Linked DNA regions of Homo sapiens. The protein of the gene in region 3 interacts with the protein of the main gene of each other region in a biochemical or structural test. Each region holds a gene or a part of one and is shown on either strand. Other genes may lie near its edges.

What was found.
Region 1: the proteins of PDGFRA (region 3) and PDGFA form a complex in vitro, tested with the Homo sapiens proteins (2 studies listed by BioGRID).
Region 2: the proteins of PDGFRA (region 3) and CAV3 form a complex in vitro, tested with the Homo sapiens proteins (one study listed by BioGRID).

The regions. Positions count from the first base shown.
Region 1 is NC_000007.14:493,737-504,776, reverse strand, and holds the end of PDGFA (platelet-derived growth factor subunit A isoform 2 preproprotein), read left to right. Parts: intron 1-3,534; coding exon 3,535-3,661; intron 3,662-4,277; coding exon of another isoform or gene 4,278-4,333; exon of another isoform or gene 4,334-4,346; intron 4,347-6,202; coding exon 6,203-6,213; 3' UTR 6,214-7,519; downstream 7,520-11,040.
Region 2 is NC_000003.12:8,743,802-8,751,792, forward strand, and holds the end of CAV3 (caveolin-3), read left to right. Parts: intron 1-1,724; coding exon 1,725-2,066; 3' UTR 2,067-2,957; downstream 2,958-7,991. UniProt on the Homo sapiens protein: May act as a scaffolding protein within caveolar membranes. Interacts directly with G-protein alpha subunits and can functionally regulate their activity. May also regulate voltage-gated potassium channels.
Region 3 is NC_000004.12:54,222,625-54,234,859, reverse strand, and holds the start of PDGFRA (platelet-derived growth factor receptor alpha isoform 1 precursor), read right to left. Parts: upstream 5,568-12,235; 5' UTR 5,445-5,567; intron 4,994-5,444; exon of another isoform or gene 4,254-4,993; intron 2,892-4,253; exon of another isoform or gene 2,689-2,891; intron 1,761-2,688; exon of another isoform or gene 1,417-1,760; intron 901-1,416; exon of another isoform or gene 389-900; coding exon of another isoform or gene 362-388; intron 1-361. UniProt on the Homo sapiens protein: Tyrosine-protein kinase that acts as a cell-surface receptor for PDGFA, PDGFB and PDGFC and plays an essential role in the regulation of embryonic development, cell proliferation, survival and chemotaxis.

The DNA.
Region 1 (11,040 bases), on a different chromosome or scaffold from region 3:
GCCGAGGGAACTAGGTGAGGCTGCTTGTTGACCAAAGAGGCTGTGCCATCCGGAGGGTCAGGGCCGGGAGCAGAACAGGGCGCCCTGCCCGAGCCCATCCCCACGAACCCAGATTTCAGAGCCCACCTGCCCCATGCCTCACTTGGCCACCCCTGCAGAGGCTGGGGGTGGGTGGGAGCAGCAGAGTATGGGTGCTTCGAGCCTGGGAGATGGCAGGGTGTGAGGCTGGTGCTGTTCCTCCTGCTGGGACCTGTGTCCAGGGCCTCCAGGGGAGGGGAGGAAGGAACTCGGTCCCTGCTGAGGCAGGAGGGGGCTGGGCCTGGTTTTGCGCACTGGGATCCCTAGTTACTTACTACCTGGGCAGTTCTTGACTCAGGGAGGGCTGAGGACATGCTTGCAGGGCTGGGGGTGGCTGAGGTCCCAGGTGGCCCTGCTGCTCCTCTTGGGGCTTTGCTGCAGTTCATCCTCGGGCCGGGCCTCTCCGACCCCAGGCCCTCAACAGGAGGGTGGCTCTAGACCCACTCTCTGCCTGTGGTGGGTGGGTGGTGGTACTGTGCTGAGCTTGGGGACCAGGGGGTGGGTTGGTTTTGGGGCTCTGGATTAGAATCCACGCCAGTGGCAGCCCACTCTTGAAGGCTGGCTTTGTCCTCGTTTCTGGGGCCTTCTGCATGTGCAGCCTCATTTATTCCTCAACTCCTGGGTGGGTGTGATTGGTCTCCGTTTTACAGATGGGAGGTGGAAGTGTGTGCACGGCCTGCGGAGGCCTCTCTCTGGAGGATTCTGTCCTGGGGAAAGGGGCAGATTGCCGCGGGAGTGTGGAGGCTGATCTGAGGCCTCCCGAGTGGAACGGAGCCCCATGTAGGAAGCGGCAGTGTCCTGGCCGCTTTCTCTCACGCTTTGTGACGTAGCGAAACCTCCCAGGCCAGGTCCTGTTTCTGAGCTGGCTCCTGACCCCAGGCGCCCCACGCCCTGCAACTGTTGAGCTCATACTTGGCTGTCTGCTCACGCCCCAGGCAGCCCAGACCACTTCACACGCCTGCAGGCACCCTTTGCACTGTGGGTTAACCATTAACTCAGCCTCGGACAAGCCTGGTCCCCAGCGCCTTAGGGACCGGCTTACCTTCGGAGCCTGCCTGGTCCCAGGGTGCAGAGCTGACCTTCTCCCTGGGGGCCCTGCTGATGCCCAGTCTCCAGAGTCTGGAGTCCCCCCTTCCCCCCAAGAAGGTTGGGAAACATTCCCCTCCTCCCTCCTTCACCCTCCTGACTGCCTGGGAGGCAGGGCCACTGGGCTGGGGGCATCTGGCCTTGGGCTGAGGTCTCCTCATTCACCCAGCAGCGTGCATTCCCCCACGCCCCTGTGCTCAGGGGGTGACCCGGCCTCCGTTTCCTTTCTAGCCTCAGTTTCCCCATGAACCGTGAGGGGTGAAGTGGGTGATCCATAGTGGCTGTTCTTGCATTTAGACCCTGCATGCGGCAGGGCTGGTTCCGTGGGCACAGATGGAGCGCCTGCTGGGTGCTCAGCTCCCCAGGGCCTGGGAGGGCAGGAAGGTGGTGGCTATTCCCTGGTGTGTGCTCCAGGGGGCAGGTGGGACAGCCTAGCAATTAGGGACAGGCTTAGTTAGAGCTTGCCTGCGCCTCAGTTTGTTCTGTAAATGGAGGTGCCAGTCTTGCCTCCTTGTAGCATGGTTGGGAGGATGAAATGAGTGCTGGGGTTTGGGCTGGGAGAGCCAATACTCTACTCATGCAGTCCCTGGCTGTGTATTAGGGGTCTGTTGATGCCAGGCGTGTGCGTGCTTGCACTCTGTGTGTGTAGTAAGATTCCCACGATGGGGCCCCTGTGTACATTACACATGCATGACTGGTGGGGGGTGGAGTTGCCTCCCCATGACAGGGTATGTGTGTGCATTATACAGGTGTGTGTGTGGGGTGGAGTTGTGTTCCCGTGACAGGGCCTATATGTGCATTATGTGTGTGTGTGTGTGTGTGTGTGTGTGTGTGTGTGTGTGTGATTTCTTGCCTCTCTTGTTGAATGCCTGAAGCTCCCCTCTCTGGCCTGGACTGGGCCATTGTCTGCCTGCAGCTCCCCGGGGAAGGGGCTGTGGAGGCAGGACCCCCATGTTGTGGTTTTGTGCCTGGAGAATTGAGGGCAGGCGTGGCTCGCAGACAGGCAAAGTCCAGTCCGAAGAGGGGAACCCAGCTGAGGTCTGGTTCGCTTTTGAGCTGCCTGTGCCTGATAGCCACGGCCTGCTGGCCTGTGCTCCTCCTGGATCATCTTGTGTAGCCTCGGTGATGGCCCAGGATCCCTGGCCCTGGTTTCCGAGGTCAGGCCTCTCCGAGCCCAAGGAGAGCCTCGGACCTGGGGGAGCCATGAGGGGACCCTGGGTATGGGTCTGCTGGCCCTGCTGCCTGGGGCCGGCGGGGAGGTGGGGCCCTCATCAGGCCAGCAGCTGGGATTATCATCTGGACGCTCAAGTCCACAGCAACCTTGGGCTAGGATACAGCCACGAACCCCCCATTCCTAGGCCATGGCTTTAAATTTTTTTTTAATATTAATAGAGACAGGGTCTTGGTGTATTGCCCAGGCTGGAGTGCAGTGGTGTGATACCAGCTCACTGCAGCCTCAAACTCCTGGGCTCAAGCGATCCTCCTACCTCAGCCTCCCAAGTAGGCTGGGACTACAGGTGCCACCATGGCTTGCTAATTTTTAAATTGTTTTTAGAGGCAGGGTCTTACTATGTTGCCCAGGCTGGTCTTGAACCCCTGGAGTTAAGTGATCCTCCCGCCTTGGCCTTCCAAAGTGCTGGGATTACAGGCGTGAGCCACCATGCTCAGCCTGGCTTTTAAAATGTATTTAAAAACAACGTGATCATTTGAAAACATTTCCCAGCTGCACATCCACACACAAGCAAACACTTTCCCTGGCCACCTGCACCCCAGAACTCCCAAACTTCCACACCTTAGCAGTGTGCATCCTTCAGCCCCCCCAGGCACACGTGAACCTTTGGGTTTATTTTAAACAAAAATAGGATGAGTCTGCTAAATACCATGCTCCAACACCAGGCGCGGCGGCTCTCACTTGAAGTTCCAGCACTTTGGGAGGCTGAGGCAGGAGGATCACTTGAGTCCAGGAGTTCAACATCAACCTCGGCAACATAGCGAGATCTCATCTCTTCCACACAAAAAAAATATTTAAAATTAGCTGGGCATGGTGGCCTGTGCTTACAGGTGGGAGGCTGAGGTGGAAGGATCACTTGAGCCCAAGAGCTTGAGGCTGCAGAGGCTATGATTGGCCTAGGTGACAGGGTGAGACCCTACTCAGAAAAAACTAAAACACACACACACAAAACTGCACTGCAGCTTGTAGGTTTTTCACCTGGTACTGCTACACTCCCCACCACAAGGTAGTGTTTCTGGGAGGAGGTCAGGGGTCAGGCTGCTCTCTCCTCCCTCTCAGCCTGTCCCCGGCTCCCAGCACGTCGTGATGTCCGAAGCTCCATGCAGGCATTCATGGCCGGGCTCTGTTCTCTCTGGCAGGTGGCCAAGGTGGAATACGTCAGGAAGAAGCCAAAATTAAAAGAAGTCCAGGTGAGGTTAGAGGAGCATTTGGAGTGCGCCTGCGCGACCACAAGCCTGAATCCGGATTATCGGGAAGAGGACACGGGTGAGTGGCTGCCTTCGTCGGCATCGGTGTTGGAGAACAGGTCTTCAGAGCCTTGCTTTTGGGGTGTTAGGTGGCCCCCTTGAGCGCAACGCTTACTGCTGTGAGCATCTGGGCTGCTGTTGAAGGATTCGTTGCCCTGCTCCCGGGCCAGATGCCTGCGGGGGAGACGGATCCCACACCTGCAGGTGTCCGGTGGGGAGGGTGGCCCAAGCTGCGGCACTGGCAGGAGAGGAGATTCAGGTCTCACTGAGAGGGGCTGGGAGTGCATAAGACACCCAATTCATTAGTGGGCTGCGGGGCTGAGCTGAGAAGAATCTGCAGAAGGGCCTCCTGCCAGGGTGGGCGGGAGGAGCAGGTTCGAGGACTGCAGTTGCCCTGGCTGGCTGGGGTCTCTCCTTCACCCCGCCACGCGGACTCCACCCAGGAGCAGAATGGCTTCTGTGCCCTGCTATGGCTGGGCCCTGGGAGCATGAGGGGACTCAGAAGTTTCTCGGTGCCAGGGTGCTGGCCTTCTCTTCTGGAAAGATAAACAAATGCCGTAGGTATTTGTTGCTTCAGTTCTTCACCCCGACGGCCGTCCCTCGGCCCACTCACCGCCCTGCCCTTTTGTTAACAGGAAGGCCTAGGGAGTCAGGTAAAAAACGGAAAAGAAAAAGGTTAAAACCCACCTAAAGCAGCCAACCAGGTAGGACTGTCTGCCGGACACACTGAGTCCTGCAGGGCGGGGAGGTGCAACTGACTGATCACACCAGCAAATCACGCTTCCTGTCTCGCCGGGTGCGGCGGGGATGTGGCCCTGATTGGCCTTGATGGTGTCTGCTGGGCTTGGGTCTCCTTGCTCCCCGTCCGCTCCTGCCTCGCAGAACGCCCTGGCCCGTGGCTCACTCCCGCTTGGGAGCCTGCCTCCAGCTTTGTCCTTCTCTTTGTCGTTGATTGGGGATGCAGGAGCATTGCACATGAATGGAACAGGTTGGGCGACCTGAGCAGCGGTGGGGCAGCTCTGAGCGCCTGGCCACTCTGGGATCACCCACCCCATTTGACAGATGAAAAAACTGAGGCTTAACTGAGATTACAGATAAGGACTGTTGGAGGCTGAATATATCTGGAAATCCTTTATAAACGTGCAGGGCTGTTGGCTACTGTGTTGGAAATTGCATTTGGCTGCTAGTAACACCAGACAGCACAGGGATTGAGATAAGATCGAGCTTCATGACTTTCATCTAAGGGTGGGATTGCAGAGCAGGGAGGGTAGTCTTGAGGTATCATCAGTGTCCGCCTTCTGTCTGGCTAGTGGCATCCATCTGCAGTTGCCTCATGGCCCAAGGTGGCTGCTAAAGCTCCAGAAACCACATCTGTGCTCCAGGCTGGAAGAAGGAGTGAGCGGGGGGGGGGGGGAAGGGCAAAATAACACCCTTAGAGAGCTATCCTGGAAATCCCACCCAGTGACTTTTGTGTTTTTCTCAGCTGCCATCCCTCCACTGCAAGGGAGCTTGGGAAATGTCTCCTAGCAAGACATGTCGCTTCCCAGATGGAGGTGGGACCTGGGCAGCCGCCATCATCACGGAGGAGGCAGTTTCAAGCCTTCCTGGTCCTTGGCATTGGCCCGTCTGGCTTGGGAAAGTTGGAGCCCTGTCTGGCCTGGTTCCCCCTCCTGGCACGTGGGACTCCATGGTGGCCAAAACAAATAGTTTCTTTAGAAGAGAGGAGGATCTCAGAGATAGGGTGTCTGAGAACCCTGGCTCCTGTTTGCAATGTGGGACTTGGGCCTGCGGGTGAGGTCCATTCATGAGGAGCCTCTTGGGAGGAAATTGTCCACTTGGGCGGGTCTTTGAAGCAGTCCAGGACTGTTGGTCAGCCTTGGCTTTGTTTGCTGAAAGTGTGGCCTGGTGGGTGGTTTTGTGCCTGCCTGTGGGTCCCATTTCTACAGAGCGTTAGGCTCTGGCCTCCATGGGCCTGCTGGTGACAGACCCCATGGTGAGAGGCTGGCACTCCTGTTGTCCCATGCCTGGCTGGTACTCATGTTCAGCCTATAGGCAGCCCACGTGTTGGAGTGTGCGATGGAGAGGCCACATGGGATGTGGAAGAATTGTTCTTAAACGATCAGCATAGGTCTGCCTGGGTGCAGACTCTTCTGTCTGGCTGGTGGCCTCCATCCTCAGGGTTGTCTCATGGCCCAAGGTGGCTGCCAGAGCTCCAGAAATCACATCTAAGCCCTAGGCTGGAAGAAAGGAAGGCAGAGAGAAGGGCAAATGAGCCATTCTTGGCCTCAGTTTCCCCCATCTGTACAATGGGAGAATGGGGCTTGGTCTCTAGACATGTTCTGTGAGATGCTGTGAGCCTAATCCCAATTCCTGTCAGGGTACTGCAACATGGCCAATGTGGCAAATGTGATTCTGGAAATTTCTTGAAAACTTGAAATCCCTGTGTGCCCCTGATTGGGTTAAATGTTTTCACCCTGTTTTCCTCCTATGCAGCCATGTGTGTGCTGGGTGGTTCACTTGGTCGGTGGTCTCAGTGTCTGTCTTTCCCTTCTCCCTGCAGATGTGAGGTGAGGATGAGCCGCAGCCCTTTCCTGGGACATGGATGTACATGGCGTGTTACATTCCTGAACCTACTATGTACGGTGCTTTATTGCCAGTGTGCGGTCTTTGTTCTCCTCCGTGAAAAACTGTGTCCGAGAACACTCGGGAGAACAAAGAGACAGTGCACATTTGTTTAATGTGACATCAAAGCAAGTATTGTAGCACTCGGTGAAGCAGTAAGAAGCTTCCTTGTCAAAAAGAGAGAGAGAGAAAGAGAGAGAGAAAACAAAACCACAAATGACAAAAACAAAACGGACTCACAAAAATATCTAAACTCGATGAGATGGAGGGTCGCCCCGTGGGATGGAAGTGCAGAGGTCTCAGCAGACTGGATTTCTGTCCGGGTGGTCACAGGTGCTTTTTTGCCGAGGATGCAGAGCCTGCTTTGGGAACGACTCCAGAGGGGTGCTGGTGGGCTCTGCAGGGGCCCGCAGGAAGCAGGAATGTCTTGGAAACCGCCACGCGAACTTTAGAAACCACACCTCCTCGCTGTAGTATTTAAGCCCATACAGAAACCTTCCTGAGAGCCTTAAGTGGTTTTTTTTTTTGTTTTTGTTTTGTTTTTTTTTTTTTTGTTTTTTTTTTTTTTTTTTTACACCATAAAGTGATTATTAAGCTTTCCTTTTTACTCTTTGGCTAGCTTTTTTTTTTTTTTTTTTTTTTTAATTATCTCTTGGATGACATTTACACCGATAACACACAGGCTGCTGTAACTGTCAGGACAGTGCGACGGTATTTTTCCTAGCAAGATGCAAACTAATGAGATGTATTAAAATAAACATGGTATACCTACCTATGCATCATTTCCTAAATGTTTCTGGCTTTGTGTTTCTCCCTTACCCTGCTTTATTTGTTAATTTAAGCCATTTTGAAAGAACTATGCGTCAACCAATCGTACGCCGTCCCTGCGGCACCTGCCCCAGAGCCCGTTTGTGGCTGAGTGACAACTTGTTCCCCGCAGTGCACACCTAGAATGCTGTGTTCCCACGCGGCACGTGAGATGCATTGCCGCTTCTGTCTGTGTTGTTGGTGTGCCCTGGTGCCGTGGTGGCGGTCACTCCCTCTGCTGCCAGTGTTTGGACAGAACCCAAATTCTTTATTTTTGGTAAGATATTGTGCTTTACCTGTATTAACAGAAATGTGTGTGTGTGGTTTGTTTTTTTGTAAAGGTGAAGTTTGTATGTTTACCTAATATTACCTGTTTTGTATACCTGAGAGCCTGCTATGTTCTTTTTTTGTTGATCCAAAATTAAAAAAAAAAATACCACCAACAAAACCCGTGGACGTGAGAAGCGTTTTGTGGTACGTTTTTCTAGCACTGAGTCTAGACCCTGGTTGCCAGGTCATGCGGTGCTGTGTTGGGTGGAAACGGAGGTCAGAGCTTTCTGGGTGGGGTCCCTGGACCTGCCTCCATGGTGGCACCCGTGGGATGCCTGCCTACCTCGGACTTCAGCACCTATGGGGGTTAGGCCGAGGACATCCTCCTGCAGGCTCCACTCCCTGGAGCGGATGAGGAGTGTCAGAGTAGCCAGAAGACCATGAAGAGTTTCATCCAAGAAGGGAGCCCACCTGTCTTGGTGTGTCCATGTGCAGCACTCACCATACCCTGCCCGGGCTGGCCCCTCCACCACCTCCAGGCCCACGAGACAAACCATCGAGGTTGCTTTCAATCTTGACCCCGCGTTCTTCGAGGACCATCTGTGGACTGGCGGCCGGCTGGCGTCTGTTGTCCATGTGCTGCTGGAAGGTTCTTACGAAGGATTATCTTCAACAGCTCATCTTCATGGTGCTGTTTTCAGCCTCGTCAGGGCAGCCTGGAGGCTGGAGGGGAAGTGCAGGGCCAGGTGGTTGCAAGCTGGTTCCTGTTCCTTGGACACCTGCTGGGGCCCTGCCTGGGCCTGTGGGCTGCTGTCCAGATCTGCACCGGTTACAGCGCCTTGCCCAGGAATGTGCATTGGATGTGACGTGTGGCAATGTAACATGTATTTGTTTCCATGAGATGCTGGCGACAATGCTCCATTTTTCTTTTTTGTATAAAGTCGTCTGGTGTAATACCGTGTCCATTAAAGTGATGGGGCAGAAAAGCCAGGTGGGGAAGAGAGAATTCCATAAGAATTCCATAGGTCTGGAGCCCAGGGGTGGCTGAGGTAGCAGTAGAGGTGGGAACTCAGGCCTGCTTTCTCTCCCTACTTACTCCTTCCCTCCCTCACTCCCTCCTTTTCTCCCTCATTGGTTCATCCATGCAGGCGAGGGCCCTAGTGCCAGCCCCTCCTGTCCCGACATGGGGAGAGCCCTGGGGAGGGGCAGGCAGAGTGGAGGCCACTCCAGCCAGGAAGGGCTGCAGTGTGGCGGGGGCTGTGGTCTGAGGCTGGATCCTTTCCGAGCCTCTCCACCCACGTGGGCCTGCAGCCTTTGTCGCGGCTCTGCCCTGCGTTCCCGGGATTTCTGCTCCTGCCTGGGCCCCCTCCCGGCCCCTAGCCCTGGGCTGCACCTGGATCTGGGCTCAGGAAGGTGACTTTCTGCCCAGGGTCAGCTCTTCATGTCTTGTGAGCCCTGTGACCTTGACCGAGGGGCCTCCATCTGCATGTCGGCGTGCACATCTGTGAAACGGAGCTGCAGCTCAGGCAGGGTAAGGACGCCTCGCCATTGACTCACCTGGTGCAGGTCTTGTCTGCTGCCTCCTCCTGCTGGGACTTCACTCCAGCCTCTAGTGTTTCTAGGCCCCAGCATGGCAGAGGACAGAGCCCTTGGGCTCAGGGATTGCTGAGCGGCGATGGTGCCGCCTGTTAAAACGAGGTTCCTGCACCTGCCTGGACACCTGAATGCACCTGCTCACACCGTGCCCTTGCCAGGGGTCATGAGAGCTGGGGCCCAGCCTTTGCTGGGCTTCTCCTTTAGCTTGGGGGTGTTTCCTTTTCTTCACCCAGGCCTCTGTGTCCTGGCTGTGGAGGGGGTTGGAACTGGCTGGGAGAGTCAGTGACGGCAGGTGGTCTCCAGCCGTGGGTCCCTACAGCTGTCTTGGGATTCCCAGCGGTAGGTGAAGCCGAGGCCTGGGTCTTTGCCTGGGTCCAGTGCGCAGAGCAGTTGCTGGGCTGGGCCAGGCTCGGGGATCCCGTTCTGCAGAGAAGCCCTTCTGGTTTGTGCCCTCTTGTCAAGCACAAGAAGCCACGGCCCTCCTGGGACCTCCTTGGTTTTTTTGGGCTTTTCATACTTAGCCATGGGTTCCTCCAAGAATTCTAGGGGTGGGAACTTGAGGGCTTGGCTCCCATTTTAAAGATGAGTGAGCTGTGCCCCTGGCAGGCCCGGAACGCCTAGGGGGCCCCAAGTAGAAGGGTCGCAGGACACAGAGAGGCAGGACTTGTGCTGTGGCCGGGCATCCAGGGGCCCTTCCATCTCCTGGGCCTTGACTCTGCCCCACCCCAGGGGTGGGCTGGGCCCCAGACTCCGGAGCAGCATTGGGGCGGGAGCTCCCCAAGTGCCTGCAAACAGCAGGGCCAGCCAGGCTCTTCTGGGGTTGTGTCCTGGGCAGGTGCCCAGCCTGGGACTGAAGCTCCTTGCCCTGCACCTATCACCAAAGGGCCAAGATTCACAGAGATTTGCCTCTGCATGCTCCCTGGAAATGGGGTCAGCAAGGACCAAGATACAGACCCCAGGGAAGATGGCGACCTCCAGGTCCAAAAGGAAGAGCAGGTATTTGAACTCAAGTAGCAAAAATCACAGAATTTCCTGCACCCCACAGACCCCCGTTCCCTCACAGAAGCCCCCCATCCTCTCACAGAACCCTGGTCCCCTCGTAGATCCCCTGTCCCCTGACAGATCCCCTGTCCTCTCACAGATTCCCCCGTCCCCTCACAGATCCCCTGTCCTCCTCACAGATCCCCCATCCCCCTCACGGATCCCCCGTCCCCCTCACAGATCCCCCGTCCCCTCACGGATCCCCTCCATCCCCCTCACGGATTCCCCCGTCCCCTCTGTACAGCCGTTTCCAGGAAGTCCTGGTCCTGAGGTCCCCGGGTTTCCGGGATGGGCAGGAGGAGGGGACACAGGCCCAGTCCTGAGAACGGGGACCCCAGGCTCCCGATACGTGGACGCGGCCCGGGGCCAAGGCTGGACCGGAAGTGGCAGGTTCCCGCCGCCTGTGGGTTCCGCCGCTTCCCGGGGCGCCCGGCGAGGGTGACAGACCCCGGGAGCGCTGTGACCGCCACCCGTGCCCAGCGATGAAGCTGAAGGTGGCCTCCTCCGTTTGCAGGGAGAATTTTGGTTCCAGGCTCCGGCGCCCCGGGGGCGGGCGGGCTAGGAGGGTCGGTGCGGGCGAAGGAGGCCTGGCCCTTGCGGCTCCCGTGCCGGGGACCCTGGAGGTGGGCGCGCCTCGGCCCCCAGCCCCAGCGGCCGACGCCGGGCTCCTCCCACGGCCCAGCCAGCGCCTCACAGTCCGGTGGCCCTGCCCCTGCGGCCACGCTGGCCGGCTCCTGACGCCTCAGAGCCTCAGTTTCCCCCCTAGCCGTCGGGAGGCGGGTGCGCCGCAGGATGAACCCGTGAGTGGCGCTGAGCAGGGTGGGCGGCGGCTGTGGCAGCCCGGGAGGACGTGGGTCCCCAGAGCGCCGAGGCGGGAGGAGAGTCCCGAAGAGCATCCGCGAGGGGTCGCCAGCCGGGGAGAGTGGTGGGGCCTCTGAGCCGGGAGGGGGCCGAAGCGTCTCCCACGACCTCGGCGCGGTGCCTGGTCTCCGCGGGGTCCGGCTTCCCGGTGCCCCCTTACCCTGCGCTTCTCCAAGCTGACAGCCCCAGGTGTGGGGCCTG
Region 2 (7,991 bases), on a different chromosome or scaffold from region 3:
GAAAATATTGTACTGGAAAGAAATGCACCAAAACAATCATATCTTTAGTAATAGAGAAGTACAAACCCAAGACTCTTTTCTTTTTTCTATTCTGTTAATTCTCTGTGATATGGCCATTTTTTTTATAATGAAAGTAATTTTAATATTGGTGATGCAATAGAGGAGAGGATCCCCTCCCCATAACCAAGGCGGGAAAGGGACTAACTAACCAGGAAGATTGAAGTTGGAGCCTCAGCCCTGCAGGCCACCACACAGGCCCCTCCTGTTGATCTGATTAGTCTGTACCTGCATCCACCCCCTTTTAATTTGAATGGCCCAGGAGCACTGCTAGAAAGAAAACATCTCAGAACAGTTTCAGGCATTAGCAAACAGCTCTGCAACCTCCCACTTGGCGGGCTGTACTGGTAACAACCATGGGGAGACCAGTCATGAAGCAGCTAATTTGGTTCACTGCTGTTTAATTGACCAGTGGAATTTTTTTTTTTTTTTTTTTTTGAGATGGAGTCTCGCTCTGTCACCCAGGCTGGAGTGCAGTGGCACAATCTCGGCTCACTGCAAGCCCCGCCTCCCGGGTTTATGCCGTTCTCCTTCCTCAGCCTCCCAAGTAGCTGGGACTACAGACACCCGCTGCCATACCCGGCTAATTTTTTTTTTTTTTTTTTTTTTTTGTATTTTTAGTAGAGACAGGGTTTCACTGTGGACCAGTGGATTTTACAGCCTCCCATCCTTTCATCCTCATGATACCACTGGAAGACGTTCATTGACTCCATCTTACAGACAAGACAGCTGAGGCTTAGTGATGCTAAGTGACATCACCCATGTGTAGGCAGCTAGGAAGGTGCTTCATGCATAGCAGGGCTCGAGAGAGCTTAGGTAAGCGATGTGAGGAACCTCTGCCTGTTCACCATCCAATCCACAGGTGCTCAGTAAATTGCTGTAGGATGCATACGACCGTCCAACACCCTTCAGATCATAAAACAATAGAATTTGAGAGCTGCGACTATAGCACTGCCACTAAGTCACTGTTGGCTTTAAGCAAGTCGCTCACCTTGAGGGGGTTGAACGAGCGTGTTGTGTTGGTCAGCGGTGCCTAGGAACAGCAGCAGCTTGGGCTCAACAGGGAGCTTGTTAGAAATACAGAGCCTTAGGCCCCACTCCAGACTTGGGGAGTCGGAATCCCTGGGGCGATGATATGGTCTGGATCTGTGTCCCCTCTAAACCTCATGGTGAAACATAATCTCCAATATTGGAGGTGGGGCCGGGTGGGAGGTGATCGGATCACAGAGGCAGATCCCTCGTGGCTTAGTGCTGTCCTCACAATAGTGGGAGAGTTCTCATAAGATCTGGTTGTTGTAAAGTGTGGCACTCCACCCCCTGCCCAGCTCTCTCTCTTGCTCCCACTCTCACCAGGGGAGACGCCTGCTCTCCCTTCTCTAGCCATGGTTGAAAGCTCCCTGCGGCCTCACCTGAAGCCAAGCAGATGCCAGCACCATGATTCCTGCACAGATCACAGACCCATGGGCCAATTAAACCTCCTTTCTTTATCAATTACCCAGCCTCAGGTATGTCTTTAAAGCAATGCAAGAATAGCCTAATACAGGTAGGGTCCAGCCACCAAGGTTAACCTGACCTCTAGGGGATTCTGACACATGCACGCACACACCCAAAAGCTTGAGAAGCGGGTGGCTTCTGTGAGTTGAGGCTTCCCCTTGCCACCCCTGCAGGTGGATTTTGAAGACGTGATCGCAGAGCCTGTGGGCACCTACAGCTTTGACGGCGTGTGGAAGGTGAGCTACACCACCTTCACTGTCTCCAAGTACTGGTGCTACCGTCTGTTGTCCACGCTGCTGGGCGTCCCACTGGCCCTGCTCTGGGGCTTCCTGTTCGCCTGCATCTCCTTCTGCCACATCTGGGCGGTGGTGCCATGCATTAAGAGCTACCTGATCGAGATCCAGTGCATCAGCCACATCTACTCACTCTGCATCCGCACCTTCTGCAACCCACTCTTCGCGGCCCTGGGCCAGGTCTGCAGCAGCATCAAGGTGGTGCTGCGGAAGGAGGTCTAAAGCCAGGTGGGGCAACAGCGGTGGCAGGGCAGGGGGTGGTGGGCCAGACTGGTCCCCGGGGGACTTCTTCACAGGGGCTGCTGGCGAGCTCTTTCTCTTTAGGGACTGCTCCATACCCCATGATGGAGCACACGGTGTAGGGAAGCCAGAAAGAAAAGACGGCCCAGCCACAGAAGCACAATGGCCCTTCGCTCTCCCCCAGCCCCACCATGATGCCCCCATGCCTGGGCGTGGGGGAAGATCATTTGCCAAGAGGCAGCTACTGCAAGTCTTTGCGTTCACTTGTACTGTAACAACATAAACCAGCACGCGGTTCCCACCCGGGGCCAACCTCTCCACGCGCACTCAGGAAAGTGACCAGTGACCACTGGCGTTAGGAAGGTGGCTCCAGTAAAGGGTTTTGGCTGCATTTGGGGAATGCTGCATTTTGTTCGTGCCTGTAAGATTGGTTTGTGTCCTGACCAGCTCCAAAAATATACTTCACTGCCCTGAAAAACAGACACAGGGAGAGTTGGTTGTCTCTTCACTTGGCCAAATGTAAGTGAAGAACAGAGTCTTTTTCTTCTTCGGATTCTATTGTTTGCTGGAACCGTACACGTTCCTTGGAAGATCATGTTTAAGTGACTCCTGTTGCCTGAGCACAAAAATGGGCACCAATGGAGGAAAATGACCCTTGGGCTGGCAGGGGCAGTGACCCTTCCAGGGTACCACTGAGGGAAGGGCCTGGGTTCAAGCCTCCCGGAACCTCCCCTTTGGCTAACCGAGCCCCTGAAATGCCCAGTACTGCCATTTGACATGAGGGTACCTTCGCCCTCAGGAGATGTGACGAAGGAACAAGGTCTAATTTGTGCGTGTGTGGACTCACTATGGAAATAAAATGCAGTAGAAAGAGCATGTATCACTTCCTCCCTCCTCACACTCTCTCTCTCTCTCACACACACACACACACACAGTGCCCTTATCTTCTTTAGGGCTGTCTTTTCCGAGTGTGCTATCCAGAACTTAGCCATTAAAAAAGAAAGGATGGGGATGGGTGTTAGCATCTGTGGTCCGGTTCTTTCAGAAATGCTGTATATTTCTCTCAGAGATTTTCAATAGACTTTGGCACATTAAAGGCTCTGACATGTCCTGCAGTAGATAAACCTGTTTAAACCAGTATCCCCCCAATCCTATCTGACCTTTTTTTTTTCTTTTTTTCTTTTCATGCAACGCCCATTTAAGTCTCATATAATTAAAGTTCCACAGCACTTGTCAGGTTTTCGGAGACATTATTCATGCCTGGCCACGAGCCCAGTGGTCTTGGGAGGCAGTGTGGTGAAGTGGACCACACACAGCTTGGGAACTAGGACGCAGGCAGCCTTGGTTCTAGTCCTGCTTCCGCTCCTAGTTGCCTTTTCTGCCTCAATTTTATCACCCACAAATTGATCTCTAATGTGCATTTTGGCTCCAAAATTTTACCCAATTTTGGTTTTCTCCTAACATTGTATGTAAATTTCAAACACAGAAAAGTTGAACAGCTACATACCCATCTTGGCTCTATCATTAACGTTTTTCTACCCCAGCTTTCTTACATCCCTATTCATCTATCCACCCCTCTATCCATCCCACCAATCTCATCTTTACGCATGTTTAAATACGTTGTAGAGATCAGCACATTTTACCCCTAAACACTTCATCATTTAGCCCTTGTTTCTGCAGATGAGAAAGTTACAGTCCAGAGAAGTCAGGAACCTTGCCAAAAGGCACCCACCTAGCCAGCACTATCACTGTGGCTCCAGCCTGCTGCCTGTGCTCTCCCTTGGGGCTCTTCCACATTGTCGGGGGGCTCAGCAGGCCCAGGCTCCTCCCTGCTGAAAAGGACTAAGGCTGATGTTACTTATGTCCTCCTCAAAGGGCCTGCCCTTTCAAACGTCTCTTGAAATCACGAGGCCATCCATTTCAGACTTGGAATCTTGGGTTATGTAGAGAATTTGCCATCTTGGTATTTGCTATAACTGGATTTGACAATGACTCCAATTTTTCAAGCTCACTGTCTTTCTCTAAGGGCAGACTATGGTCGGTGCTTAATTAGCCACAAAGTTCACAGAACTAGAGACAGGACACACATCTGAGATGCATGGGTGTCCAAGGAGTTCTCCCTCCAGGAATCTCCTTGAGAAGTAGCAGGCAGAAAATCACATTGGGGTTATGATGAGAATGGGCCTGAGGCAGGAGGATGGAGTTCCATTCCCTCTCATAAGATACATAGGGGACCACCAGGGACTCCTGTTTGAAATGCAGGTTCCAAGGCTCTAGCTACAGTGTTTGATTCAGTAGTGGGGCCCAGGAATCAGCATGTTAACACAAACTCATTTGTGATGCTACAGATGGCTCCCAAATCCACTTTTAAGAAATATTTGTTAGGGTTCCTTCAAGGTAACAGTCTAGAATCCTATCATCCCCAGAGTTCCACTGTGGTTCAGAGCAGATTCAGGGACATCATACATGATGTTTGTTCCTGAATCTTAGAGCATCTTCCCACAGAACTCTGATAACTGAGTGCACCTGTGATTCCAGAGAATGGGACCAGGGCCCCCTTCCACACCCTGTCACAGCCCATGCATCTGTGCCGTAATCAGGCCAATAACTCTGAAGCCCTGCAGGGATCTGGGGTCTACAAGCCACCAGTTCCAGTCACCGTTCTTGGGAGGAAGAACGGGGGCAAAGCAATGTATGGAAACAAATGTTTATCTAGTGCACTCTCTATCAAGCAGCTAATGAAGCAGACAACTTATGATCAGCCATGTCATTCACCAACTGGCACAGTTACAGAGGGGTGCCAGAGCAGGTCACCACAGTAGAACAAAATCAAGGTGTTCACATTTTGCCTTAAGTGGCGTTTCATTGCTATTGAATACAAAAAGTGTTAAACACTTTGAAACCAGGATTTTCTTAAAAGACAGCCTGCATTGTCCCCTTACATTTCCTGAAGTGGCAACACATAGACTCAAGCCAAAAGAAGACCAAAGTATGTGTCAGATTTTTTTTTCCAGCGCTTAAAGAAATAAGCCTCAGAGTTTCCACGTTCACTTTTGATGATCAGAGCCATGATACATTGCAGAAGACAATCTGCAGCTCCCACTTCCTGGCAACCCCGGCCATGCATATGGTTGTAAACAAGTCTGAAACTGTAGGGAAAGGTGGTTGGCAGACCTCAGGCATGGGGTCTGGGGAGGAGGCCAGAAACAACTGAACCCAAGGTAGCGTTCTGAACCCCTGCGCTCATTCTTCTAGGCTTTAGTTGGGGAAAGACTAAGAAATGGTGAAAATGCTCTCAAGGAGATGGGTGGGGGTCGGGGTGTATATCCAGTGGGGCTATTGAAATTGAATGTCACTTATTTGCCATAAAACAGACTCCTGCGCCATAATAAGACCCAATGTACCCGCCAGAGCTTTCACACGAAGAGAGTGACAAAGCATCCCACTTGGTTCTGATGCCCAAGAGTCTTATAACTCCAGGGTTCCCAGGAAGGCTGTGCTCCTGGTCAGAAAATCTACTGTGAGTTGCTGTCCCTTTGATCCCCAGTGGCCTCTGTTGGCTCCTAGGATGGCAACTTCCCTGGGAACAGCAGAGTCCTGGGGCATCTCTGGCTGGTGGGCAGCGAGGCATGAATGCTAACAGACCCCACTGCTGCTGCATTTGCACCCAGAGCTCACCAGTGCTCCAGTACATGTGCACAGAGGCCCCAGAACTGCATCCTGTTAGCTTCCCAAAGAGCAAGGACTGGCTGGTGTTGACCCTCTTCGTGCATGTCCCAGCAACACTGAGCAATGCTTTGCAGTCCAAAGACGATACTATCTTCAGTCTCCGGGTAGTACTGAAGACCTTGTGCTAAATCCTTAGACTTTGAACGTGGACATTTCAGTGCAAGCCTCTCTTCTCCCAGAACCTCTAGACAATGCTAGCTCATTCTATTGTGTGTGTATGCGCGTGTGTGTGGCTATGTGGCTACTGCAGCATGGAGGAAGAATAAAGTGTGTTATAAAGAGACAGAGTGGATCTGTGGCCTTTGAGAGTGCTCCTGCTGTATCTCAGTAAGTACAAAAATGTGCCTGGAAACTTAAAAGGTGCCCCACCATGCACTCAGCTGGCCAGTCCCTGACAGTAAACCTCTGATCAGTAGTGTCCTGTATTTAGTGACTAAAGGTATTTCTTAGACGTGGTCATGTCCTAACCTCAAGGCTGAGAGGACATTTGAGAACATGTTCACTAGGTAAGAAAAACCTCTGACACCTCTAGTGAATTTCTATTTTAAATAAAACATAACAACCTGCAGCTACAAGGCATCACTTGTGCCTTTACAAAGTAGGGATATATTTTCACTGCTGTTACTTTTTGCCAAATAGAGACATCATCTCTTGCAGTAAAACTGAGTAAGAAAATGATGAGATCCCTCTCAAGCAGTGAGCCACATAGAGAAACAAAAGTGCTGAGAGGCAAGAGATTCCAAGGAATTCATCCATCAAGCTGGCCTTCTCTGAATTCATCTGTTGAATTTTTTTTGTTTATTTTTATTTTTTAAAGTTCATTGGTTTTTAGTACATTCTCAAAATCGTGCACAATCACCACTAATTTCAGAACATTTTCATCACCCGAAAAAGAAACCCCAAACCCTTAGTAGTCATGCCTCATCTCTCACAGCCTCCAGGCCCTGGCAAACGCTAATCTATATTCACTCTATATAGATTCGTCCATTTTAGACATTGCATTTCAATGCAGTCAGACAATATGTGGGCTTTTGCACCTGGCTTCTTTCACTTAGCAAGTTTTCAAGGCTCATCCATGTTGTGGCATGTGTGAGTACTTCATTTCTTTTTAGAGTCTAATAATGTTCCATTGCGTGGACAGACCACATTTTATTTCCCATTCATCAGTTGGTAGACATTTGGGTTGTTTCCACTTTTTGGCTATTACAAATAATGTTGCTATGAACATTGGTGTACAAGTTTTTGTGTGTATGTACGTTTTCATTTCTCTTGGGTAAATACCTAGGAGTGGCATTCCTGGGTCATATGGTCACTCTACGTTTAACTTTTTGAGGTACTGCCAAACTGTTTTTCAAAGCAGGTGCACCATTTACATTCCCACCAACAATTTAAATTTCTACCAGTTTCTCTACATCCTCACCGACACTCGTTCTTGTCCATCTTTTTATTGTAGCCATCCTAGTGATTGTAAACTGGAATCTCATTGTGATTTTGACTTGCATTTCCCTAATGAATAATAATGTTGAGTATTTTTTCATGTGCTTAGTAGCCATTTGCATATCTTCTTTGGAGAAATGTCTATTCAAACCGTTAGCCCATTTTTTAAATTGATTTATTTTTCTCCTTATTGTTGTGTTATAAGAGTTATTTATATATTCCAGATACAAGCCCCTTATCATATATATGACTCGCAAATATTTTCTCCCATTCTGCAGGTTATCTTTTCACCTTCTTGATAGGGTCTTTTCAATCACAAAAGCTTCAAATCTTGATTAAGTCCAATTTACCTATTTTTCCATTGGTTGCTTGTGTCTTTGGTATCATATCTAAGAAACCACTGCCTAATTCAAGGTTACAAAGATCTATGCCTATGTTTCTTTCTAAGATTTTATAGTTTCAGCTCTTATATTTAGATCTTGGATGCGTTTTGAGTTGATTTTTGCACATAGTGTGAGTAAAGGTCCAACCTCATTCTTTTGCACTTGCATATCATTGTCTCGGTGCCATTTGTTGAAAAGACTCTCCTTTCTCTATTGAATTGTCTTGGGAACCTTGTCAAAAATCAATTGACCGTAAGTATAAGTGTTCATATCTGTACTCTTTATTCTGCTCCGTATGTCTATCCTTAAACCAGTAACACACTGAGCTGATTACCTTTATCGTAAATTATGAAATCAG
Region 3 (12,235 bases):
AAATGACATATCCTTTTGAATATCACCAAACGGGTGTGACTCCTAATGGCACAACCTTAGGAGTAGCAGTAGCAGTTTGAGCATTCGGCTTGAGGTCACCAAGGCCCCGACATAGGTCTCCTCACTCAGAAACGGGAACATCAATGCCCCCCCACTACCCTCCTCACAGGCCAGCTCTGATAATAAGATGTTCACTATGTAAATGCAAAGCATTAACAACCAAGGAGAAACACAACACAAATTTCCACGAAATAAAAATGTTGTCTTCCAGCAATTCTTGTAGCCTCACAGCAAAAGAAAATCAGTCACCTATTACGGTCCTACTGAGCAAAAAATAAATAAAAAATAAAAAATAAAGCACCTTCCTAATGGTCTCCGCGAAGCCCATTCTCACAGCGGGTCGCAGTAGTTCTTACGAGTGGCCAGCAGATGGCAGTGTTGGTCCAAGGACGTGCGTCCACGGGTTGCGACACAGACGCCGCTGCGAGGAATTCTGAGCTCCACTACCCCAAATGTTAATTTCCAGTCTCTTCCTTCCTTAGGTTGTACTTTTAGCTTTCGTGGTGACCTCAGTTGAAAGCCCGCGGGGTTTAAGCAGAAATAGGAAAACTGCTGTTGAAAATGGCTAAATCTCCTCGGGACCCCAGGAGAATTCGGGGACATCTCCCCATCATCCCCATCATCATCCCCATCACCGGGAGCTGGTGCGCCGGGGCAGCGGGGCTTCGGGAAGACGTCTTCGGAGCCGGGAAGACGACGCTGCTGGGCTAGGCCGCAGAGGCTCAGCCGGACTCGCTACTAGGGTTCTGTGCAACCCACGCTCTCGCCACCTCAGCATTTCCGCCCCCTCGGGGCAGGGGGACCGCCTGGACCTCGACGCCGTTCCCGGGCCGCGCTGTCCTATCTGTCCGCGCGCCACCGCCGCCCCCATAAACCAGCCTGGCGAGGGCCGCGACGGCCGCGCAGCTGATTGGAAACGACTGTTACCGTTGCACAATAACGCAGGGTCGTAAAACAAACAAACAGCAACAGGCCGCCCGCGGGGCAAGGGAGCTGGCGAGGGGCTGGAACGCAGAAGACGGCGCCTGCCCCCCAAGAACGCACGGGACCCGTCCTCCTCCACACTCCCCTGCTTCTCCCACATTGAATTACAAGGACGTCCCATTCTCAATCCAAACCCAGAGACCTCGGCCCCCTCTCGTCCACCCGGCGCCTCCCGGGCCCACACAGAGCCTGCGAGGAGTCCACTGGCTGCCCGGAGGAGGGGAAAGGTGACCCAGATTAGCCTCCGCTCCGGGCCCCCGGGGTTCCAGCGCTGCGCTCCACTGAGATAGCGGCGCCGACCGCCCGGGGCTGGGGAAAGCGGGATGCGTCCCCGGAGCCCACTAGAGGGCGCGACAGCCCCGCGAATCTTACCCGGCTCGCCAGCTAGCTCGCCCGCAGCCCAGGCTCCTGGTCCCCGACAGCGCAGCCGGGAGTGCTGCGCGCAGACTTCGCCCGGGAGGCTCTGCGCTCGGACTGTCCAGCCCCCGCCACTGTCCGGCTTCTGACCCCGGGACCCAGAGGAACACTGCGCGGTCCGCTCTCCCTCCCACCTCCACCAAGTCCTCGGCGGCTTGGTTGTCCCGGGGTTGGCGGCGATGCCCAGCCGCTCCGGGGACCTGCGCCCCTGCGCCCCTGCGCGCCGCGCTCTGAACCTCAGAGCTGCAGAGGCCGCTGCGCCCCAGGCACGACGCTCTGCGTTTGCATTGTTTTCAACTGAGACCCGAGAGGGGGCCGGGCGGGTGTGGAGAGAGGGGGGAGAGCGGGAAGAGAATCCGGGCGGGTGGGGGGAAAGGGGCCGAGGGGTTTAGGGTTACAGGAGCTCGCCAGCGCCTCCTATGGGCACGAGAGCCGCACGGCCGTGGGTAGCGGCTCACCGGGAATGCTGAGGAGAGCTAGCATGCGCCCTCTCGGCATTTAAGAACCGTTCCTGGCCGGGCGCGGTGGCTTACGCCTGTAAATCCCAGCACTTTGGGAGGCCGAGGTGGGCGGATCACCTGAGGTCAGGAGTTCGAGACCAGCATGGCCAATATGGTGAAACCCCGTCTCTACTAAAAATACAAAAATTAGCCTGGCGTGGTGGCGGGCACCTGTAATCCCAGTTACTCGGGAGGCTGAGGCAGGAGAATCGCTTGAACCTGGGAGGCAGAGGTTGCAGTGAGCCGAGATCGCACCACTGCACTTCAGCCTGGGCGACAGAGCGAGACTCTTGTCACACACACACACAAAAGTGCCTTCTGGTGCCACCTTGCCCGACACGCGCCATAGCCGCCTCTGCCCCCTCAAGAGTCCGCGCCCACCCGCGCTTGTCGCTCCCCTTTCGCGGGGGCCGAGAAACTGCAGTAGGAGGCAGGGAAGGAGGCGCCCCAAGTCGGGTTTCCCATTATTCCCTCCTACAATCTACTTTTTCAGCCCATCCCAGGTTCGCTCATTGATCAGTTTAAAACAAAAGGAAATGCCGCCGAGCCACTTCAGCAAACGACAACCATCTGGCAGAACCCGAATTAGGGGGAAGTTGGGAGAAGCCATTTGCCCCCGATCCTGCATCTTGCGCCCCAGGCGAGACCGAAAGATTATCTGCCGCCCCAAGGCTGATGCTGCGGTTGGACCCGGCGAGTTAGACCCGGGGAACCCTGAGACCCACACCTTTCGGTCACCGATCCGGCTTTTAGCTCTTTTCCTAGAATTGTCACTTTTCCACCAGCAACGTATAACCTGGTCGCAGCTCCCCGGAGGTCAAAGGGAGTACTTCCCTGTGGGGTCTGCAGGAAGGCGCTGGCCACCACGTCCCCAAAACGCGTCCCGCCGCTGCGCGCCGCCCACGGTCCGTCCCCAGGAGGCACAAAATGGGCCCGCCTCGGCGCCAGACGTGTTTGCAGCTGGAAAGCCCGGCCCAATGCCCCTCCCCCTGCATCCCTCCTCAGTCCGCGTCCCGAGAGGAAACTGGCCCAGGGGCGCAGAGCTGGGAGCCTGGGATCTCCTTCAAGTCCTTCTCGATCTAAGGATTTAAACAAGAGCCAGGGCACCGGGGGCTAACGACGGGTTCATTCTTGGCTTCCCCTCACTCTTGTGAACGAGGTCCAGCTGCACTTGGGTCAACCCAAAACTGCAAGCTCCGAAGCAGGGCCTGACCAGGGCGTCAAAGCGAGCCTGGTCGGCCTTGCGCCTGTCGGGGAGTCGAGGCAGGGCCTCCTCATCTTGAGGGTTGTGGAAAGGAGGAGGCCGAGGAGAAAGGGAGAAGAGGGGATGCAATTCAGCAGTGCCGGGGTCCAGGTTGACCAGATTAGGGGTCGGGGATGGGACAGCGCGGCGGCTGGGGAGGTGCGCACGCCCGGAGAGCCCCTTCCTCCCCTCCTGTGGCTCCGGGGATGTTTGTCCGGTGAGATGCACTGCGGAGGACTGTCGTGCGTTTGCCCTGGATGCTCCCTGCTCCAAAAATCTGTCTAGTTCTTGTCAGGAGCGACCGCGGCGAGGCGAGTCGGTCCAAAACATTGAGCAATTTGGCCTCGGAGCCAAAAAGCCATTTCCCACACCGCCCAGCCCGCGGCTTTTCGGACGCGGGGCGGTAGGGACCTGATATGGGCCCCATCCATGCTTGCCTCCCACCCAGGAAGATGGAGTGAGTGGCAAGTTCTTCCAGGCACTCCTTGCGCACATCCTGAGGTCTTAGCACAATTCGGGGAGCGAAGTGCGGGACCGGCGCTCTGGCTGCGGGAGGGATGCACAACGCACAGCCTGCCAGGCCAGCAAGTCCTTCCCGACCAAGACGCGAGGCCAGGCCATCGGCAGCTCTCGCACACCTGGCCCGGCCCAGGCTCCTGGCTCCCTCTGGCAACGTACTCGGGTTGGGCCACACTCGTCGCTCCGACCTGGCCGACACCCTCCCGGAATAGAACAGCTGATCCCACATATTCAATGCCAAATGGACGCCGCCCGCTCCCTGGGCGCAGCCGGGCGGAGTTAATTTCGTGTGTAAATCTGGTTTCCATGGGGGTAGACAGCAGAGGAAGGAGAAGTACGCACAGACGGCTCTGAAGCCGGCAGGGAGAGGAATGGAAAAAAGGCCAACTAGAGAGGACCGAGCAGCGCTGGGCGAGCTCAGACGGCAAGTGCCACGCACCCCCGCGCGGAGAAGGGTGCCGGGTAGGGGGTGTCCAGGGCTCGGGTGCCCGGAGGGAGAATATGGTTTACCTCCCACCTTTCTGTCTTACCTGCAAACAAGTTTCCCCAGTTCCAAGTCGTCCCTAACTTCCTCACAAGAAGTTCGGCACCTTCCTGGAGACCTTTCCTCTCTTCCTGCCTGCGGCCAGAACTGAGCGAAAGCAGAGCCCCCGGGCAATGCAGAAATGATTCCACCGAGGAGGGGGCGCGGGAAGACAGGCGGGGGCGGGGGCCACGGAGCACAATGAGGGCCCCTTGGTGTGCGGTTCGAAATTCCTCAAATCCCAGTTGCTGGAATGCGAGGCGACGACGACTTCTTCACTCAGGGCCAAATGTGTTTGTCATTATTCCAGACCGCCCGCCCGCGCCGCCGCTGTCGCCCCCGCGCTAGGGCGTGCAACCCGAGCACACTGCCCGGCAGGCACCCGCTCTCCCTGGCACCTCACTGACCCAACAAACCGCTCCAGAGCGCCCCAAACCCTTGCCCACGCCCGCGCGCCTCTGCTTGTCCCGCAGCCGCCTCACCGCCGCGCCAAATCTGGCCCCGACTCTCTCCCAGAGCAGCGCCGTCCAGTAATCACGCGCATTCGGCCGGCTCCCTGTGCTGTAGGCCAACACCGAGGTCCGGTCTCCAGCCGAGCCCAGCCCGCCTCCTGCGCCCCGCAACCCCTTCGCGCGCCCCCCTCCACGCTCCCCTCCACGCTCCCCTCTCCCCACCTCCCCCTGGTCCCCCAGCCGCGCTCCACACCATGGGCTGCAGCGCTGTCCCGCCAAACCGCAGGCGAGGAATGAAAACACTCATTTAAAACCTGTCGCCTTCCAGGACCCACTGCCAAGAAGAGGGCAAACACCTCTGCCTCCACCCCCAGTTCCTTGGTGTTCGGCCCAGTATTCACGAACACCACCCCCACTCCCAAAAGAAACCTCAAAAATGTAAGCCTAAACAATTTCTTTGGGAGGCCATAGGGTTGTTAGAAAAACATTGTTTTTAAAAATAGGTCTGGAAAATGTGTGTTTAAAAAAAATACCTAGACTTTCTAACTCTATGGTTATCTCCCACCCGTCCCCAAGTGAAGTTTATTCCGAAAAAAAAAAATTACTCTCTGGACACACAACTGGAATCCAGCTCCTTTTTTTTTTTCTTGTCGCCCAAAGTTTGAAGTTACTTCGCTTTCTCCAGTCCCAGAGTCTGATCAGGGACTTCCCTTATAAACAAAAAATCATTTTTTCTTTTCCCTTACCTTCTCCTCCGATGTTATTCCGCAATGAATGTCCCACACATGGAGTAAAGAGCGTGCCCACGGCCTCCAATGATCTCTTGCAGTCTCCTCCTCTGTTTCTCTCCCTGTAGCTCCAACAGTAATGGGCTCAAAAACCGCGTTTTGTAATTGATTCAATGTTATAGTCCATCCTTCTAAAACTAATCATTTGCTCTAAGTAAATAGCTGTCAGGAAATAAGCCCCCCCTCAACCTTGGTCTCTTCAAAATAAAAGTTTCTCTCAAACTCCCTGCGCTCCGAATCTCCCAGTGTCCAGATTGCGCCTTCGCTTTTTGCTCTTACGCAATCAGGGGGTCCAGTCCCAACCCCCAGACTTCGACAACAACTGGGGGGCGGGGAGAAGCAGACCAGATGGGATGGGGGGTGGTGGAAGGGGGAGGTGTTGGTGCTCTGCCGGGAAAGAGGTTTTGTGAAACTACAAACAGCCCATCATTTCCAGAATGAGTTTGCCTCCCCATTTTGGGGTTATTTTCTTAGACTGCTATAGTTTTGTATTCTCTTTGAAAAGAAGAAAAGGAACATACAAAATTGCATTTAATACCCAGAGAGAATATAAATCTAGAATCAAGAAATGTCCCTTCTACAAACTCGGCCCAACGAGAAATAGGGCCCTCGGGAGAAATCTCCAAGCGGTTGCGCCGTTTTGAACTAGGGGTCTTTTAGGGGAAGGGCTATATAGTTGCTAGTTATTTAATAGGATTGGGCAAACTGTTGAGTCCAATATGACAATGATGGGTTTTTGTTTTGTGTGGTGTGTGTGTGTGTACAAGACTGGGTGGTCTGAAATACGGTACAAAGAAAAGAGGGTCTGTGTAGGTTTGGAACGTTCTCCGATAGAACGACCTTTACTCCCTTGAAGTCACTTATCTGGTCGTGCCTTTGTTTTCGGGGTTATCTGGGCGAGGTTGCCCTGGCTTCTATCTCGCATACAAAAAAAGCTCAAGCTTGGGCGTTTGAGGAATCGTACCACCGCCTCCGCGTCGTGGGGGAGGATGCCTTTTGATTCTCCCTCCGTTCCCTCCCGCCGCGTGGGTCGAACCCTACGAATTCCTTGGAATTGACAGCTGAGCCCCAAACCCTGCGCCCAAGGCGAGAGGCCAGTGTCGGGAGGAAACGATCCTGCCGGCGAGGGAAAGGGGGCGCTGATGCTCCAGGAACCAGACCTGGGCAGAGTGGGGCTTCCCAGCGACAGCGGGGGAGGGGAGCGCGTTCACCTTCATCGCTCTCTGATTTTTGAATTCTCCTGTTGGGGTTGGGGGTCATCCTTCATCCTTCTCCCTCAACCCCACCCCAACACACGCACTCTGAAAATGGCCAAAGTGGCCAGGTTGGGACTGGCATGTCCAACAGCCGTCTCCTCCTTCACCAGGAGGGTGGACACAGTGCAGTGGACAGGGGAGAGTCACAGAGAAGTACTCCAACGGGCGCGGTGCTGTGCCTAACCAGGACAGGATCTTGGGATGTCAGCCTCGAAAACAGGGCGCCTGGGGCTGCGCTGGGGGTCCCATTGCCGCAGTTCTTCTACGCGACCCGCTCTCGTGCATCTTCAGCTTGGGTGACTGCACCGCTCGCTATTACTTCCACATGTCCCTTCAGGAAATCATTGAAGGCAAATATATGAACAGCCCCTTGTTCGGAATGCTAACAGGATACCGTAATGTTTGTAGAAAATGAGCGGGAACAAACGATCCCCCCAAAAATCAGAGTGCGGAATAAAAGGCAAAAGCGGGTGCTGGGCCACATGCTGTTAAGTTGAGAACCGGGTTTTTAGGCTAGTTGCCCCAGAGGGTAGGAGGCGAGACAGACAGCCTACCCAGAGGGGCTGCTTTGCTTCGGCGACACTGTTAGTCCGGTCAAGCCAGGGTCTTCCGTCCGCAGGGCCCCAGCGCTCTCCGCCCACAAATGGTAACTTCACAGTTCATTTCAGAGCCGTTTAATGGGGCCCGAGAAGCAGTCCGGGCGGGAGTGTCTCCAGGCAGCGACTCCTCGGGAGTTTAAAGCAGAAAGCAATGGATGAGCAAGCGAGCACCCAGTTGTCCTTCTGGTAGTAATTACCTGCCTAATTTGAATGATGCCTTTGTTATGATCATTAACAAACATTTGCTAAAGGTTTCCATGTGTGACATTCTGGAAGGTTTAAAGGCCTGAGGAGCTGACTCCAGGGATAGTGCCCCGGTGGGGGGTGGCGCAAGAAAGCAAATGGTTGGGGGAAAATTTTGCGGAGAGACTGTGCAAAGAAGAGAGGTCAACATCTGCCTCCTCTGCAAAAGCAAAATAAACCCAGTGGTCAGGAGCAACCTCCGGACAGGAGGCCCTCGAACCGAGGCGGTTGGTTCCTTAAACCGAGTCCTGCCCCCACAGCCCCCGCCCCTACCACTGCTCATAGGCGGGTTTGAATCCTGTTTTCCGCCTTCTAAGGCTGGTCCGAGGCTGGTTCGGGAGAAGTCGGGTCTGCGCCCGGCAGTCAGTCCGGGGCGTCGGGGGAAGGTGGGGCTAGTTCTTGCCGCGCTCTCCCAGTGTCGTTCTAAGATCCTTCGAGATCGGTCCCACGACGCCCCGGGTCCTGGGTGGTCCCGGAGCCGCAGGGGGCTAGAAACCTTGCCCTCCTGAGGCGGGCTGCGGGTCTTTTCTCCCCTTCTTGTGCTTCTCACTGGGCACCGTGTGGGGGGTGGGGGGAGGGGACCAGGCCACCATATGTACCCGGAGGAGAGGAGCGACATGCACTGGCCTGGGCAGCTCTGCGCAGATCTCAACCCGCGCCCGGATTCTAATTTTCAACCTCTTGGGGTTTTTTGTTTTGTTTTTTCCTTGAGGGATTATCAAGGGGTTAAGAATGTGGGTTTTCTCCCCAAAGTGGGAGTCGGGGAGGCTGCGAGCCGAGAGGAAGGAGGCCCAACTCCCGAATTGAGCCGGGCCGAGAAGTTGGGAGAAAAGGGTAGGGACTGTGACAGTTCTGTCCTCCGCCTTGCGCGTCTAGGCCAGCAGGCGACATGAAATTGAGGGCAAGGGTATAAAAAGGTGCAGTCGATTAGCTGACTTTCAAAAAGAAGGCCTCGTAAACTTTTTACAACCAGATCAAAATGGTCACTAAAAACAAAAGCAAAATCTCGCCGTGCCCTGCCCTGCCTCCAGGGCCCGTTCTCCTGGCCCCGACTCCCGGGCGAGGGCGGCCACAGCTCCGAGCGCCACACCTTTGGCTTTGAGGGCGCTTCCCACTGAGTTGGCTTTTTGTGTCTTCTCCTCCTCTGCCCCCCAGCTCCACCGCCAATTCTACTTTCCTTGAAGAATTCAGGTCCGTTTGCCCTAGAAGCCGTACGAATTTAACAGTTATCAAAGCCGTTAGTTGTGAAAATCACGTTTAAACTTGTGAATTCTTTTTTTCAAATGGTGATGGGCGGGGCAAGGGAACGGGGGATGTTTCTGGCTTCACAATTTGAAAATGAAGGGCCCGTTTGGTGGTTTGCAAAAGAAAACGGTGCTAACTGCTCCTTCTCCCACCCCCTTTAACCCTTGGCTGCATCTGGAATAGCCGCCTCCCTGGGTCCAGCGAGGAAGGGTCCTTTGCCCGGAGGTGGTGGAGGTGACGCACAGATGTGGGGGGTCCCCGCAGACAGAGAGACGCCCTGGCCTCTGGTCTGCCCCAGCTGAGGCTCGGAAGCTAGCTCTAAGGAGTCTCTTTGCACGCTCAGAATTCAGAACGGCACTAGTCCTGGAAAAGGAGGAATTCTCTAAAAAGATCGAGATGGGTCTGTGCAGCTTGAGGTGAAAGTTCCCTCCCCAGGACTCCGCACCCACCTTGCTGGCTGGATCTCAAGGTGCAGCCTCTCTTCTGGGTTTGGGGGGCTTGCTCTTCAGGAAGTAGAAGCAGAGGGTTCCTAACAACGCAGCCTGTTTACAGACCTGAGGACAAGAGCTTGTTTCCTGGTCCAGCCCAGCCCGGTGGGCCATACACTCCTTAGAGCCTGGGACAGACTGGTAGGACTGGAACCCTCTGGATCTGGCTTTTGGATACCCCCTCCCTCGCTAGAGAGCCCCCTTCCTCAGTTTAGGGATGTTGTTGTGCCTCTGCCCTCTCCTGCTCCTTAGGTCTTTGGTTTTAGTTGCTTTTAATTTGAAAAACCATATGAGGGGAGGGGGAAGGAACGAGGAGATTGGGAGGTCTGCTCTTTATTAGGGGCCCAGGCCTCTAGCTTTCCAACACACAGCTGTGGCTGGGAGGGGAAGGAGGGCTGGCTCTGTGTAGGTCAGCCTCACTGAAGAGAGGGACTTGTCCTCTGGAAGTCCCAGGAGTCCAGCACAGCCCTGTGATTTTTTTTTTTTTAATCCTTCAGCAGAGACACTGCAGTGGAAAACCAGTGGAACCTCGACTCTTTGCTCATCCATTAAAAGGGGCATAATCGACTAGGCATGGTGGCTGATGCCTGTAATCCTAACACTTTAGGAGGCCAAGGTGGGAGGAACACCTGAGCCCAGGAGTTTAAGACCAGCCTGGGCAACATAGTGAGCCCCCATCTCTATTTAAAATAACAGTAATGACCATTGGAATAATCATGCACAACGTATAGGGTTGTCTTGGGGATTAAGTAAGATAATATCCCAGGTAAATAAAGCGGTTCATATGCAAACTTAAGATGTACAAGGCCATGTGTCAAGGGCTAAGGATACAGCCCTTTCCTCCTAGATTTTATGGACTAGTGGAGCAATCAATTAGACATAAAGTTGCAACTTAGCGTTCTAAGCAATGTTGGAGAGAGACAATGAAGTCAGCACACAGGAGGAGCCTAACCCAATCTGGGAGATGGGAGACGGCTTCTTTCAGGGAAGGCTTCTCTGAGAATCTAAGAGGAATAAGAATCTAGTTGGGGAGGAACCTCATTGCATGGGCGGGGAGGTGAGAGAGAACATGAGATAATCAGAAGTGAAAGGAGTTTGGAATGGCCACAACTTGTAAAGGTCCGGAGCGGAAGGAGCAAAAAAGAGGTGAGATGGAGCTCATGGAGGCCTTCTAGACCATGTTAAATGTCTAGGCTTGCAGAGATGGGAGGATCGATGGAAGGTTCCAGGCCAGAAGTTCAAAACCAGAATGGACAACATAGTGAGACTCCATCTCTACAAAAAATTTAAAAATTGACCAGATGTGGTGGTGCACACCTGTATTCCCAGCTACTCAGGAGGCTGAAGCAGGAGGAATGCATGAGCCCAAGAGTTCGAGGCTGAGGTAAGCTATGATCGCACCACTGCGCTCCAGCCTGGGAGACACAGCAAGACACCATCTCTAAAAAATAATAAGGCTGGGTGCAGTGGCTCACACCTGTAATCCCAGCACTTTGGGAGGCTGAGGTGGGGAGATCACGAGGTCAGGAGTTCAAGACCAGCCTGGCCAACACTGAAACCCCGTCTTTACTAAAAATACAAAAATTAGCCAGGCATGGTGGTGTGTGCCCATGGTCCCAGCTACTCAGGAGGCTGAGGCAGGAGAATCACTTGAACCCAGGAGGCAGAGGTTGTGGATAGCCGAGATCACGCCATTGCACTCCAGCCTGCGCAACAGAGCAAGATTCAATCTCAAAAAAAAAATTAATTAATTAATAAAAAGGAAAACAATTGACAAAAGAACCTGGGCTTAATTCTATGGAAGTATATGGTTTAAAGAGGGGCAAGACAGGAACAGAGTTGAACATTTAGCAAGATCAGCCTGGATGATCTCAGGAGATAGGGAGGCTCCTGCTATAATCTAGCAAGAGAGGATGCTTCCCTGTTCCTGGGGGATAGCAGGAGTTTGGAGAAAATGAAGAGTGAATTAGAGAGAAGGAAGTAGAAAGCCTAGCACTCACTGAAAATGTGAACTGTGAGGGAGAGTGGGGTGCCTGGCTGAGGCCATGGCTGGTGCTGTCTACTCAGCAGGGGGACAACCAGGAACTGGGTTAGAAAGGAAAGGATGGGCCGGGCATGGTGGCTCATGCCTGTAATCCCAGCGCTTTGGGAGGCTGAGGCAGGCGGATCACTTGAGGTCAGGAGTTGGAGACCAGCCTGACCAACATGGAGAAACCCCATCTCTACTAAAAATACAAAATTAGCTGGTAGCCTGTAATCCCAGCTACTTGGGAGGCTGAGGCAGGAGAATATCTTGAACCCAGGACAGGGAGGTTGTGGTGAGCCAAGATCGCGCCATTGCACTCCAGCCTGGGCAACAAGAGCGAAACTTCATCTCAAAAAAAAAGAAAGAAGAACAAAAAAAAAAGAAAAGAAAGGATGAGTCCACTTTTAAACATGACACATTTGAAAAAGCTCAAGAAGGATTAAAATGAGAGAAAGAAAAAGAAACAGGACAGAATTTGGGGTAACTCCAGCATTTTCCAATAAGCAAAGAAGATTGTGAGAAGGAACAGCCAGGAATCTTTATCTCCTGGATAGTCAGCTGTTGTCTCTGAATCCATAGGATGAGAGTTGGTTGAATTTAAAGACCTGTGTAAACTTATCATCTAAATTCAACATTATTTGGGAAGCTGAAGTGGGAGGAGGCTTAAGCCCAGGAGTTCAAGGCTTTAGTGAGCTATGATCACACCACTGCACTCCAGCCTGGGTGACAGAGTAAGACCCTGTCTCTAAAGAGAAAGAGAGAGAGAGAGAGAGAGAGAGAAGGAAGGAAGGAAGGAAGCAGGGAAGGAGGGAGGGAGGAAAGAAAGAAAAAAAAAAAAAAAGAAGGAAGGAGAGAGAGAAAGAAAGAAAGACGGATGTGACATTATACAATA